3 separate regions of the Homo sapiens genome follow, and regions 2 and 3 are each reported to be linked to region 1. The links are microRNA targets in miRTarBase. Many come from high-throughput screens and were not tested one by one. Region 1 holds a microRNA gene; each other region holds the end of a gene's coding sequence.

What was found. Region 1 holds the annotated microRNA hsa-miR-3166 (CGCAGACAAUGCCUACUGGCCUA, at 1,951-1,973, shown strand). A microRNA usually pairs through its seed, bases 2 to 8, with sites in the 3' UTR of a target mRNA and lowers its output. Matches are read on the target gene's strand: a 7mer-m8 pairs with bases 2 to 8, a 7mer-A1 pairs with bases 2 to 7 and ends in A, and an 8mer does both.
Region 2: the mRNA of PLXNB1 is a reported target of hsa-miR-3166. Seed matches in the 3' UTR shown: 7mer-A1 at 3,492-3,498 and 7mer-m8 at 3,351-3,357.
Region 3: miRTarBase lists CEP72 as a target of hsa-miR-3166. Seed matches in the 3' UTR shown: 8mer at 3,204-3,211.

What each region holds. Positions count from the first base shown.
Region 1 is chr11:88,174,611-88,178,714 of GRCh38, forward strand. MIR3166 (microRNA 3166) reads left to right here and starts at 1,892; the gene lies at 1,892-1,983. RAB38 (RAB38, member RAS oncogene family) reads right to left here and starts at 833. Exons shown (of 3, transcript NM_022337.3): 1 at 573-833. The coding sequence starts at 774.
Region 2 is chr3:48,400,746-48,404,849 of GRCh38, forward strand. It overlaps PLXNB1 (plexin B1), which reads right to left. Exons shown (of 38, transcript NM_001130082.3): 38 at 3,109-3,845. The coding sequence ends at 3,741. Among named protein-coding and RNA genes, the nearest start is that of PLXNB1, 27 kb to the right of the region's middle.
Region 3 is chr5:652,311-656,414 of GRCh38, reverse strand. It overlaps CEP72 (centrosomal protein 72), which reads right to left. Exons shown (of 12, transcript NM_018140.4): 12 at 2,862-3,427. The coding sequence ends at 3,262. Among named protein-coding and RNA genes, the nearest start is that of TPPP, 39 kb to the left of the region's middle.

The sequences.
Region 1 (4,104 bases):
AGCAAAAAGCAAAAAAAAAAAAAAAAAAAAACAAAACAAAAACCCTCAAACTCCTTTGTCTTAAGGGCAGAGAGAAAGGTGACAAAATTTGAAATAAAGTGAGCCACTGAAGACAGGAATGGGCAAACTCCAGCTAGCCTGGAACTATCCCGGTTTCCTCTGTGAACCAGCCTAGGGGCTTCCCCTCGGTCCGCCCCTGCACGGAAGGACGTGCGTGACACTGGGCTGCGTCATTGGCAGAACTGCCCGCGCCCAGAAAACGAGCTGGAGTGGAGAACAGAATGCAATTGCAGACAATCTTCCTCTGGTTCCCTGGGGAGGCCTGCTCTGGGCAGAGAGATCCCAGGGGACTGTGCGGGAAGGAGCTAAAGCAATAGCCCAAAAGCGCCAGGGAATGCACTTGAAGTTTCAGACGTTTTTCTTTTCTTTGAAACTAAGTTTCCAGCCCACCAGGAAAAACTGCCTCGCGACCTAGTGATTTTAATCTCACGCTTGGCCGCAAGCCGCTGCCTCGAGACTGGAAACCGGCCGCGAGGCGCTCTATCCCCCTGACCCCCTCCCCCCGCGCTCACCTGCGATATCCCAGAGCTGCAGGCGCACCACAGTCTCCGGGTCCCAGTGGAGCACCTTGAGCGCGAAGTCCACGCCGATTGTGGCCCGGTAGTGCGAAGAGAAGTTCTGGTGCACGTAGCGCTTGATGATACTGGTCTTCCCCACGCCCAGGTCGCCAATCACCAGCAACTTGTACAGGTGCTCCTTGTGCGGGGCCTGCATCCTGGCGGCCGGCCAGACGTGCCGTGCCTGACCAGGGAAGCGCAGCCTGGGCTCTGCGCACGAGAGAGACTTGGGGAGCGCAAGTGTAGGTGCAGAGAGAGGCGTGGGCGGCGGGGCGGGGGCTGGGGGGCGGAACTCCTCCCCTAGGGGTTAATCCTCCTTCCTACTCCGCGGTCTTGGAGAGGGGAGGAGACAGGAGCGAGTCCCGGGACTGGCAGCTGAAAGGGGTTCGCGTGTGGTTGCCTGTTGCAGCGCTTATTTATCCGGCGCTTTAGAGTTTCCGAAGAGCTGTTTTCACCTGTGACCCTGGCCACAAACTTGTGAGGTGTGGATCTTATTTTCCACGTTTTGCTTGCGAGAAAACTGATTGTGAAAAAGTACTCTGCGGGAGATGGCCGGTGAAAGGCCCCGTTGACCACAGGTCTGAAGTCACAGGCTCTTAACTACCCCACACTGTAGAGAGAAATTACAGTATTAGGAAGCCCAAGACTGGCTGGGCTTGGTTCCTGCGTGCCCTGGTTTTTAAGTTGAGGGACCATAAGTAAGTCATTTGAGCTCTCACAGCCTGTTATTTCTCAATGAATGGCAATGCTGACCTCTGAGCAGCTTGGAGGTGGGAACACTGAGCACTTTCACACCCATTCAACTGGTAATCAGTTAACAAGGAGGACAACTGGGCCGAAAATGCCAAGGGCACTGGTGACTTTTAGCCTCTTCCCATATCCTAAAAACTCAGAGCTGCACAGAAAGACAGTTTTAACAATCGGTCAGATTATTACAAATAATAATAATGGCAAACATTTATTGAGCACTCGCTATATGCCAGAGGGTTTATAAATTATGTCATTTAGTCATCCCAGCTGTCTTAATAATAGATACCATTTTTCTTCCTATTTTACAAATGAGGAAGCTAAGGACCAGACATTTTAAGTAATGGACCCAGAGTCAAATAGTAAGGAAAAAAACCAAATTCAAACATAGGTCTTTAGGTTCCCAACTTCTTTTTGTTGTTTTTGTTGTTTGTTTTCATTCATTTGACCAATATACATTTTATTACCAATTAATATATGACAAATTGTACTTATTTTGTCTTGTCTGTCTCCACCTACAAGAAGGTAAATTTTTTTGAGGCCAGTAGGCATTGTCTGCGTTAGGATTTCTGTATCATCCTCCTAACGCAGACAATGCCTACTGGCCTAAGAAAAATTTACCTTCTTGTGGGTGGAGACAGGACAAGACAAAATAAATACAATTTGTCATATATTAATTGGTAATAAAATAAGGCAGAAAGGGGATGTGAAGAGATTATATGGGGTTTGCCTTTTAGATAGGGTGGCCAGGGAAGGTTTCAGTAAGATGGAGACAATTTAGTAAAGACATAAAGAAAATGAGAAATTGGGCATTCAGGGCTAGGGGGTGAGCAGTTTATACCAAAATGAGCTATTTTGTACCTGAATGTGCTGTGAAGGAGCTCTGCTCACATTCTATCATTTCATCTTCTCAATTGCTTTATGAAGTGGGTTATTTTCTTCAATTTATAAATAAGGAAACCAAGATTAACAGCAGCTTTCTCAAGGGCACACATAACTAGTATGTGTTAGAACTAGGACTTAAACACAGGCCTGTGTGAAAGGGAGAAAGGAGGTTTGGCAAGGCCATTGTCTTTCTGCCTTCCTCTTCTGGCCTGACACTCCCTAAACTTTAGCCTCCACATGCCCCAAACAAGCAGAGGGATGCTGAAGATGTGTACCCGGGACAAGTCACATAACCTCTGAGCCTTGGTTTCCACATCAACGAAAGGAGAATGATAATACCTATGGCAGGGCATGGTTGCTCATGATTGTAATCCAAGCACTTTGGGAGGCTGAGGTGGGTGAATCACTTGAGGTCAGGAGTTCAAGACCAGCCTGGCCAACATGGTGAAACCCGTCTCTACTAAAAATACAAAAATTAGCCGGGCGTGGTGGCAGGTGACTATAATCCCAGCTACTTGAGAGGCTGAGACAGGAGACTATCTTGAACCAGGGATGCAGAGGTTGCAGTGAGCCAAGATCACACCATTGCTCTCCAGCCTGGGTAACCTGAGCAAGACTCTATCTCTAAATAAATAAATAAATAAATAAATAAATAAATACAAATGAAATTGTTGATAAAATGCTGGGTCCATAGTAGGTGGTAAATAAATTGTAGCTATTACTATGAAATGAGGGACAAGCTTAAAATACTGTCCACAGGCACTGTCCTGTGCAGTTTCATCTTTCCTCAGAGAGTAACTCAGAAGTTTTGCTCAGAATGGACACTAAGTGACAGTGTGTAGAATTGCAGTCGTTTGTGTTTTATTGAAGTGCTTAGCTGGGTAGGCCTCATTTACTGGTTTCCACCCATGCGAGGACACACCAAGAAGATCACATCTAACAAGTGAGACAAATACTCTACCTGCTTAAAGAATTAGCCAACAATGTCACCTCACTTCCCAGGGAGGGGAATTCAGTAGCCCAAGATGCTTAAGCCATTCTAAATGCCTGCAAAATTAGGGAGGATGACAAAATGAGACCTTTGCCAGCTCTAAAATCCTGGGTCTGTAAATCTGAGAGACAGGCTTTGTCTGGCCAACAAGCTCCTGGGGTAGAAACAAGGTAGGAGTTTGAGACATCTTGTGGGCCAGCCTTCAAAATTATACCCAACCCAACTTTCTTACCAGCCCCGTACTGTTTTCCCAAGCCTGGTCCCGGCAGAGTCATCCTCACCCTTATCTGTTCTCTTTTGAGCAAGAGCATATTGGAACATCAGACATTTGGATTTATGAGGTAGGACAGGCAGGGCAAAGTTCAGGATTTCTGGTCCTGAAGCTGATAAAATTGGAGGAAGTAGCTTTTTGAGCAAAAGAATGCAAAATCAAAAATATATAATTAGGTCTAGGGCCTTGGAAGGGGTCCTGAAGCTTCAGTTTTATTGCCTCTCTGGGGGTAGGAGATTCCTCTCTCAGGGACAGCAGCCAACCATGGTGAGCAAGTTCCTTGGCCAGGCAGGAAGTATGTGCAGTTTTGTTTCCAGCCGTACTCATTTAGGTCTCATGATCATTCTTCACAGTGGGAAGAAATTACTCTCGGTTTATATTTTTAAGACTTTTAGATTACAGTAGCTTGGTAAGCACCCCAGCCTAGCAGTTCAGTAAAATCTTCGTAAAAGGCGCCTAGGTCTCTGAACCTGAAAGTCCCTTGGGTAAAATGAGGGAGTTAGGTTGCAAGATCTCTGGAAAGTCCTTTGGACTCTAAAATATCAGAATTCTGGGTCTTCTAGACATTGTCTAGTAGGAGTGACACCCTAGCT
Region 2 (4,104 bases), not on the chromosome of region 1:
CAGCACTACTGAATTCCACTGTTGTGATTTCTCTCTCTCTTTTTTTGAAGAGACAGGGTCTCACTGTCACCCAGTCTGGAGTGGAGTGGCATAATCTTTCACTGCAGCCTCAAACTCCTGGAGTCCAGCAATCCTCCCACCTCAACCTCTTAAATAGCTGAGACTACAGATGTGTGCTACCATGCCCAGCTAATTTTTAAACAGTTTTCGTAAAGATGGGGTCTGGCTATCTTGCCCAGGCTTGCAATTTATAGAGCTCCAGACACCCTCATTGGTAGCTGCTTCTGATAAATTCCACACTATGGCCAGAAGATGGCAGCAAACCACCAGCTTCAGCCACTTACCTGTGGCCCAGGACACCGGACCAGGTTTCCAAAATCTGAGCTTCACATTCCTAGACCTCCAGAGGTTCTCTTCATGGCCACCTGGACAACTGGCAAACCATTCTGTTTCCTTACACGTGCACATATCATCCAGATAACTGAAACTCTTATCAATAAAACCCCAACATCACAACCAGGGCATAAATTCTCTTTCAAACATCATGGTGATATCCTTATCTTAGATTTTTGGTAAACATTTGGAATTGGATAAACCATCATCCTTAATTAAGACAGAGAACACTTTTTTTTTTTTTTTTTTGAGATGGAGTTTTGCTCGTCACCCAGGCTGGAGTGCAGTGGCGCGATCTCGACTCAGTGCAACCTCCGCCTCCCGGGTTCAAGCGATTCTCCTGTCTCAGCCTCCTGAGTAGCTGGGATGAGAGGCGCCCGCCACCACACCTGGCTAATTTTTTGTATTTTTAGAAGAGACGGGGTTTTGCCATGTTGGGCAGGCTGGTCTCAAACTCCTGACCTCAGATGATCCGCCTGCCTCGGCCTCCCAAAGTGTTGGGATTACAGGGGTGAGCCACTGCGCCTGGCCGACAGAACACTTTTAAAGAGAGATCCATAAAACATCGCCAGTCAGCTGACCTAGGTAGTTTGGGGTGTATTTGTTCTTCAATGTGGCATCCTTAGGGAACCTGGTGGAGGAAACACATGCATCAGCAGCCATTGGTGCCAAGCAGAACACAGCTAGGTTCCCTGTATCCCCCAGCACCACCCAGAGTCACCTGTTGGCACTGGCCAGTGGGATCCAGGTCCTGACCATTTGGAAGGTTTCAGGTGGCTTCTAAGAATTCCAACATTCATCAGCATAAATTCAGCTGTTATCTTAATTAGCACGATTATTTCAGTATCAGAAAATTAATAAAAATATAGAACTCCTGGGTCATGTAACCATTTGGACAATTATTCCAACTTTTAAGTTGGTGAAAACGCTTTTTAATAAAGCACATCACTCCATAAAACGCCTTAAGGAGCCCCGGGTGGTAATGAGAAACAAAGGCCCTTTGTATGCTAACAGGTTTGTGAAAAATGTAATAATGAGGGCACACTTTCGTTGCAGTCTTAATAAAAATTAGGAAAAGATTGATCAAACTGAATTACAAATGTTCTATGCTGAAATTGTGGTCATGACCCAAGTTAAGCGATCACAAATTCTTGCTGGTGTTGGAATCTCCATTCTTGGTCATGGTTTGGAGTGAAGACAGAATTTCCTATCTTCTTGTGCCAGGTTTTTCTTCTCTATGTCTGTTATTATAACAATGTTCTGTGGCGGCTGAGCCATGACTCAGTGAGTGACTCAAAGCACGTTCAGTACTCACCCCTCCCGCGGGCACGTGCCCAGGCTTGCAGGCACATGGCCCCCCTCTCCCGGGAGCCTTCACCTACCCCTAAAACCTGCAGGGGCCTGAACCTGGAACAGAGAGGCCTCTGGAACAGAGGCATGGCTCTGTCGAGGTCTGTGGTGCTGACCAAGGCTGCTTCCCTCTGTGTCTGCTTGAAGTCCACCCTCAAGTGGATTTCCCATCCACCCTGCTCCCAGAGATGGTCAAGATGGAGACCCATTCCATGGTCTCCAACGGGAAAAGTCAGGACCATTCTGGGTGGCTATGAAAACCTGGCCAGAGCATCCAAGCTCACATGCTCCCAAATGATGGCACCTGGCTGCTGACCTGACTGTGGTCCCCACATCCGGCAGAAATGGGAAAGAAGGGACAATGGAGCCACAGCGAAGAATAGCAGCTATGACTACCCCCGGCACAGACAAGACCAACATGGCTCCTTAGGGACAAGGACTTTGTGGATTGTAGGGGCAACCCTACAGTGGATGGCTTTATTTAGGGCCAAAAAAAGGCAGGGGATAGGAGTCCTCCTGGAATTCTATCAGTCTGTCTCTCTCTAAACACTCAATGAAGACCTCGAGGGGAGGTTGTGGTCTCTGTGCCAGACGAGAGGAAATGCTAAGGGTCACTGGGTTATGGAGGATAAGCAGAGGGCCAAAGGGATGATCCCTCTGAAGGCCTCAAGGCTGAAGGGCCTTCCTCTCATCTGCCAGGCAGAGCTGCCACCCTATCTCTTCTGTTCCATGGGGGGCTGGCCTTCTGCTAAGGCCGAGGGTGGTCTCAAGTCAAGAGGAGTATCAACCCCCTGCCCTACAGACCCAACTAGCAACATGAGACCAGATAAGACAGTCTCCAAGCTCACCTCCAGGTACAAATCAGGAAGAACCATATAAGGCGGCCTTCATGGAGGCAGACAGTTTAGGAGCCGGCCCTAGGATGCCCTGATTTGGAAGGCAACACAGAAACCCTAAGTCCAGGAACAGGACCATGGAAAATGGCCCTCGAGACCCCCTCTGCCTAGAGTTGCCTGTAATTATGTCATCCTTTCCTAGTCCCTTTCAAGATAAATAGAACATGAGTGGAGAAGTGAGAATACGCAAACTGCAGATAAAGCAGGCCCCCTTGAAGAGACTGTAGACCCCTCTATCTCGGTCACCCGCCCTGCCCCAGATGGGGTTCTTCCTTCACGGAAGCTTTGACCCCACCAGACCCTGCCCAGGCGTCAAGGAGAGCCTCAGCCAGCCCTGCAGTCTGGGATATGATGGGGAACCATGAGACTCCCCAAGAGTATAGATACCACCTCCCCCTGGTACCTGCTGGGCATAGCTGCCGTCCTCCTAGTAGCCAGGGGCTAGGCCGGGCTCACACATCAGACTCAGTGCAGTGTGTTATCCTTTAATGAAAAGCTGGGTCAATGGAGTCACCACTCTCCCCAAGACCCCCCTGCAGCAGATAGCCCTCACCATGGCTACCTATGAGGCAGGGCAGCCCTGTGGCAGCCAGCCCTGCTGAGGGGTCAGTTTGTAGTGGCCTAGGAGAGGCGTTCAACTCTTAGACCTAGGATGTGGCAGCAGCAACAAGGCCAGAGGCAGCTCAACTGAGGTCAGGGATGGTGGAGGAGGCAGACAGGAAGCATGGGGCTCTCCTCCTTCCTCTCCGAATCCCAGTGTGGCCAAGGCCAGTGTTCAGGAACAGTACAGTCTCCCCAGGGGCCTGGAGTCTCTTCCAGCCACTCTCTGGAAGCCCTTAGTCCCCAACTCCCTGCAGACCGGTGTCACAGGGTCGCTGGACTCGGGGAGCAGGCTGGGTACTACCCCATGAGCCTTGAGGCCCCGGGTCTAGGAGGTGGATCCAGCAGGGCCGAGGCCAGAGCCACCAGGAGACTGGGAGTCACCTTCCACTAACTCTGCTTGTCAGTCACTACAGGCACCTAAGAAGGTGGCCTCTCCTCCGAGCTTCCAGGGCTGCCCAGGCCAGGCTGAAGCAACAGCAGGCCGTGGCTCCTGGGTTCCTATAGATCTGTGACCTTGTTTTCCACAGCAGCTGCAATCTGCTGGAGCCGATAGCCCAGCTGCATCTTCTGGGCCGTGCCATCCTCCTCCAGGGCAGTGATGATCTGAAACAGAGACCAATGCCATCAGGGGAGACTTCTTTGGCCAACGTGTTTGCTGCAAAATTCAACAGCCCTCCTAAGACGCTGTGGCATGAGTGGGGTAGGAGGCCAAGAAACCCAGCCGGTCACTTCACGTACTTTCTGGGACCTCAGGGCCTCGCTGGCGGGAGGGGTAATAACATCAAAGTCACCGCGGGGTTCCAGGATGAATAAGGTAGGAAATGAAGGACCTGACTCAGTAGCGAGCTCCTCAGAAGCCCTG
Region 3 (4,104 bases), not on the chromosome of region 1:
TCAGAGCTTGTAAAACCCAGTACTGCAAGTACGTCAATGATTCCCAAGTTGATCTACAGGTTCAACACAATCCCAAACAAAATCCCAACTCGACCGGCTAGTTCTAAAATGTATGAAACACAAAGGGTCAAAAACAGCCAAGACATCCTAACATAAGATGGAGGTACGCGCCCCAGAGTGTGTGGTATTGGCAGAGACAGACAAGGAGATGCAGAAACGGACACAGAGATCATCCTGACAAAGGAATCTTCAGCAGCCGGGACTGGGAAAACTGGGCTTATGTCTGCAACACAATGAAACTGGATCCTTAAGCTTCACAACAGGCGCAAAAATCAATTCTGGGTAGAATCTATATCTAAAATCCAAAATATACAAAACTATAAAATCCTTTGGAAGGTAACAGAGTATCTTTATGATCAAGGCAAAGTAAAGATTATTAAAAATTAGGATCCAAAATGCTTTAATCATAAAAGAAAATATTGATACATTGGGCCATATTAAAGTTTAAAATTTCTCTTAAAAGACACCATTGAAGTAAAAAGACAAGAAAAGCTATTTGCAAATGTAATTCACAAAGCACTACTACCCAGAATCATAAATAACACCTGCAAATAAATGAGACAGACCATCCAATAGAAAAGTAGGGAAAATACTTGAATAGGTACTTTACAAACAGGAAATCCCAATGAGCCGCAGACACATGAGAAGGTGCTGAACAAGGAGAAGCCAATGAAACCAGAAAGAGGTCTACCCCACACGTTCCACCACCCCGCGCCCTCCGCCACCCCGCGCCCTCCACCACCCCACTCCCTCCACTACCCCACACCCACCGGAGTGAAGGTGCTAACACTTCAGGCAATGGGTGCTGAAAACATGGACCGGCAGACGTGGTCATACACAACTAGCAGTCGGGCCTGCGGGTACCACCACTTTGGAACAGTTGGGAATTTCTAGTAAACCTGTTAAAAACATGGTTAAGCAGTTAATGGAAACGTGAACATAATGGGATATAAAACTAATGAAAAAAATCAAATGGAGTTTTTTTGTTTTTTTTTTGAGACGGAGTCTTGCTCTGTCGTCTAGGCTGGAGTGCAGTGCTGCAATCTTGGCTCACTGCAACCTCCGCCTCCCAGGTTCAAACGATTCTCCTGCCTCAGCCCCCCAAGAAGCTGGGACTACAGGTGCCCACCACCATGCCCAGCTAATTTTCATTTTTAGCAGAGATGGAGTTTCGCCATGTTGGCCAGGCTGGTCTCAAACTCCTGGCCTCAAGTGATCCTCCTGCCTCAGCCTCCCAAAGTGCTGGGATTACGGTGTGAGCCACCCCGCCTAGCCTCAAATGGAATTTTAGAACAAAAATATACCTAATTTCTGATATAAAAAATTCACTATACAAGCTTAACATCAAATTAGGCAAGTGGAAGAAAAGATTAGTAAGCCTCGCAACAGGACAATAAAACCACCTAAAGGAAAGGATGAGAGAACAAGGATGAAAAAGCATCACGTTTAGTGACCTGAGAGACAGTATCACAGTCTAACAGAAAGCTAACTAGAGTCCCAGATGGGGACAGGGAGGAAGAAGTGAGAGACGGGGTCAGACAAGAAATATGAGTAGTGGCTGCAACTTTGCCAAATCTGGTGAAAAATATGAACTCACAGGTCCAAGAAGCTCAATGAAACCCAAACGAGGTAAGCATCTATAAGCTTAAAGTGGATTAATATTAACATCTTCTAATACTCTTACATACATAAATTACGTGATGACAAATTAACCCCATCCCAACCCTACAGAAAATAAATTTGGTATGACACATTTTCCTGTTAGGACCACAACTGGACAGAGAGGTGACACAAGAGGGCAGCCTGAAGCCTAGCAAGTCCTCTTCGGGGAAGAGACAGCAGAGTCCCACCTCTGATTTCCCCAGGGATACAATCCACACGCACACACACACACACACAGAAGCACACACACACACAGCTAGCAGACACACACAGCTAGCACACAAGCACACACATAGCAAGTGCACATACACAACGCGTGCACACACAGCACACACACAGGGTGCGTGCGCGCACACACAGCGCACACACAAGCGTACACACAGCTAGCACACAGCAACTGCACACACACACAGCAAGCGCACAAGCACACACACACAGCAAGCATGCACACACAGCTAGCACACACACAGCAAGCGCACACACAGCTAGCATGCACACACAGCTAGTACACAGAGCAAGTGCACGCGCACAGAGCACACACAGCAAGCGCACACAGCTAGCACACACAGCACACACACACAGCTAGCACACACACAGCTAGCACACACACACTAGGCGCACACACAGCACACACACACAGCTAGCACACACACACAGCAAGCGCACACTAGCGCACACACAGCACACACACACAGCAAGGGCACACACACACACAGCAAGGGCACACACACACACAGAGCTAGCACAGAGCATTTTCTTCTTAGGCCTGCTCATTCTTCCCAAATCAGTTGAACGTCATTTAAAAAATGACCTTGTCTTACCAATCACAGCAAGTATGACATAAGATATGAAGTTTCCAAACTAAAAATCTAGTTTTGTGTCCTATTATGACATAATTTTCAGAACTACACTGCAAACAAGAGAGCGAGCCAGGGCTTGGGTAGATGTTTCCGCTGTGATATGTTAATATCATAAGACAATATTTTTAAGGTTTTTTCCCCCACATCTATAAGTGTCACTTGTGTTAAGTCTTTGAACTTAATTATTCCCACTCACCTATCATGGTGCACAGCTTGTTCTATAAAAAACTCAATGACAAACTCAGTTATAATTTGTATACAGCCACTGAAAAAGTTAACTTTTCAGAACAATGTATTTGTTTATTAAATAAAGATTGCTTGTTACACAGAAAATTATTTTCTTTAATTATCATACATAGCTCTCTTTCACATCAGGCAGTAGAACACTGCATTTACTTCATCTCAGGATACTGGATACAAGATTAATAGTCAGTTTGTCTCAAAATATGTCAATGTGTTCTGTCTGAAAACATGCAGAGGGCTTGGAGTAATCATATCATTTTACGAGGTGCTTTAGAAAACCAAGCTACAGGTCCTGAATACATTCCAAAAATCCTAAATAATTACCAACAGAAGAGAGAACTCTTGCCAGCCAGTACACTCAATAAAGAAGTACAAAGGTGCAGACAATGTAACTTTACCAGGAAGCTTAAGGGGTGGCCCAGCTTCTCGGCAGGAGTCAGCAGGCCTGGCAGCCTCCATGGCTGGCGCTGCTGTGTGGAAACAGGGCCATGGTCTTCTTGAGCTCCTGGTAGCTCCAGTGCATCTGCTCCACCTCGGCTCTGTGCTGCGCCCGCACCTGGCTCAGCTCCTGCAGCAGGTGTTCATTGGTGCTGACCAGGGAGCTGCAGAACAACAGGGAAGCGGCTGCTTGGCACTTCCGTCCTCTCCAGCGGTGTGGCCCTCACCTGCTGGGCCTGCCCACCTCCCTGCATGGGCACGAAGGTGCCCTGGCCCTGCACACAGACCTATCTCTGTGGCCCCATCACCTTCTGTGTCCCACTGGCTACCGCCCACCTGCCTCCTCCTTCCCAACCACTGTCCTGACCCCTGGGAGCAGCCTTGGAGGTGCGGCTCAGCACCTATGGAATGAATGAATGAGCTGAACAGGCTAATGAGTGACTGAATGGCGCCTTGGCTATTCCAGCTACGCATGGTTTTATGAGAAGATGATAAACTTCATGGCTAGCAAAACAATGTTCTAATTCTAGAAAATATACGGGGACTGAAATAGTTCTAATTCCCAGTCAAATATAATAATTTTGACATCATAATAGTGCAATAGAAGAGTCCTAGTCTTTAATGCTGTTGACCATTTTTATTTTAGAAGTAAAGTGCTATTACATTTTACCCACTTTGTCACCTCCAAATTGCCCTAATCACCCAGTCAGCGATGACCTGAGGACACTCAGGGCATTACAAGTATTAGACAAGGCAGGGCCCACTGACCTCGGTCACATTAGCCACAGAGATGGGCACCCCACTGACAGGGCCACTGTGCAGGCCCAGGCCCTGTTCACTT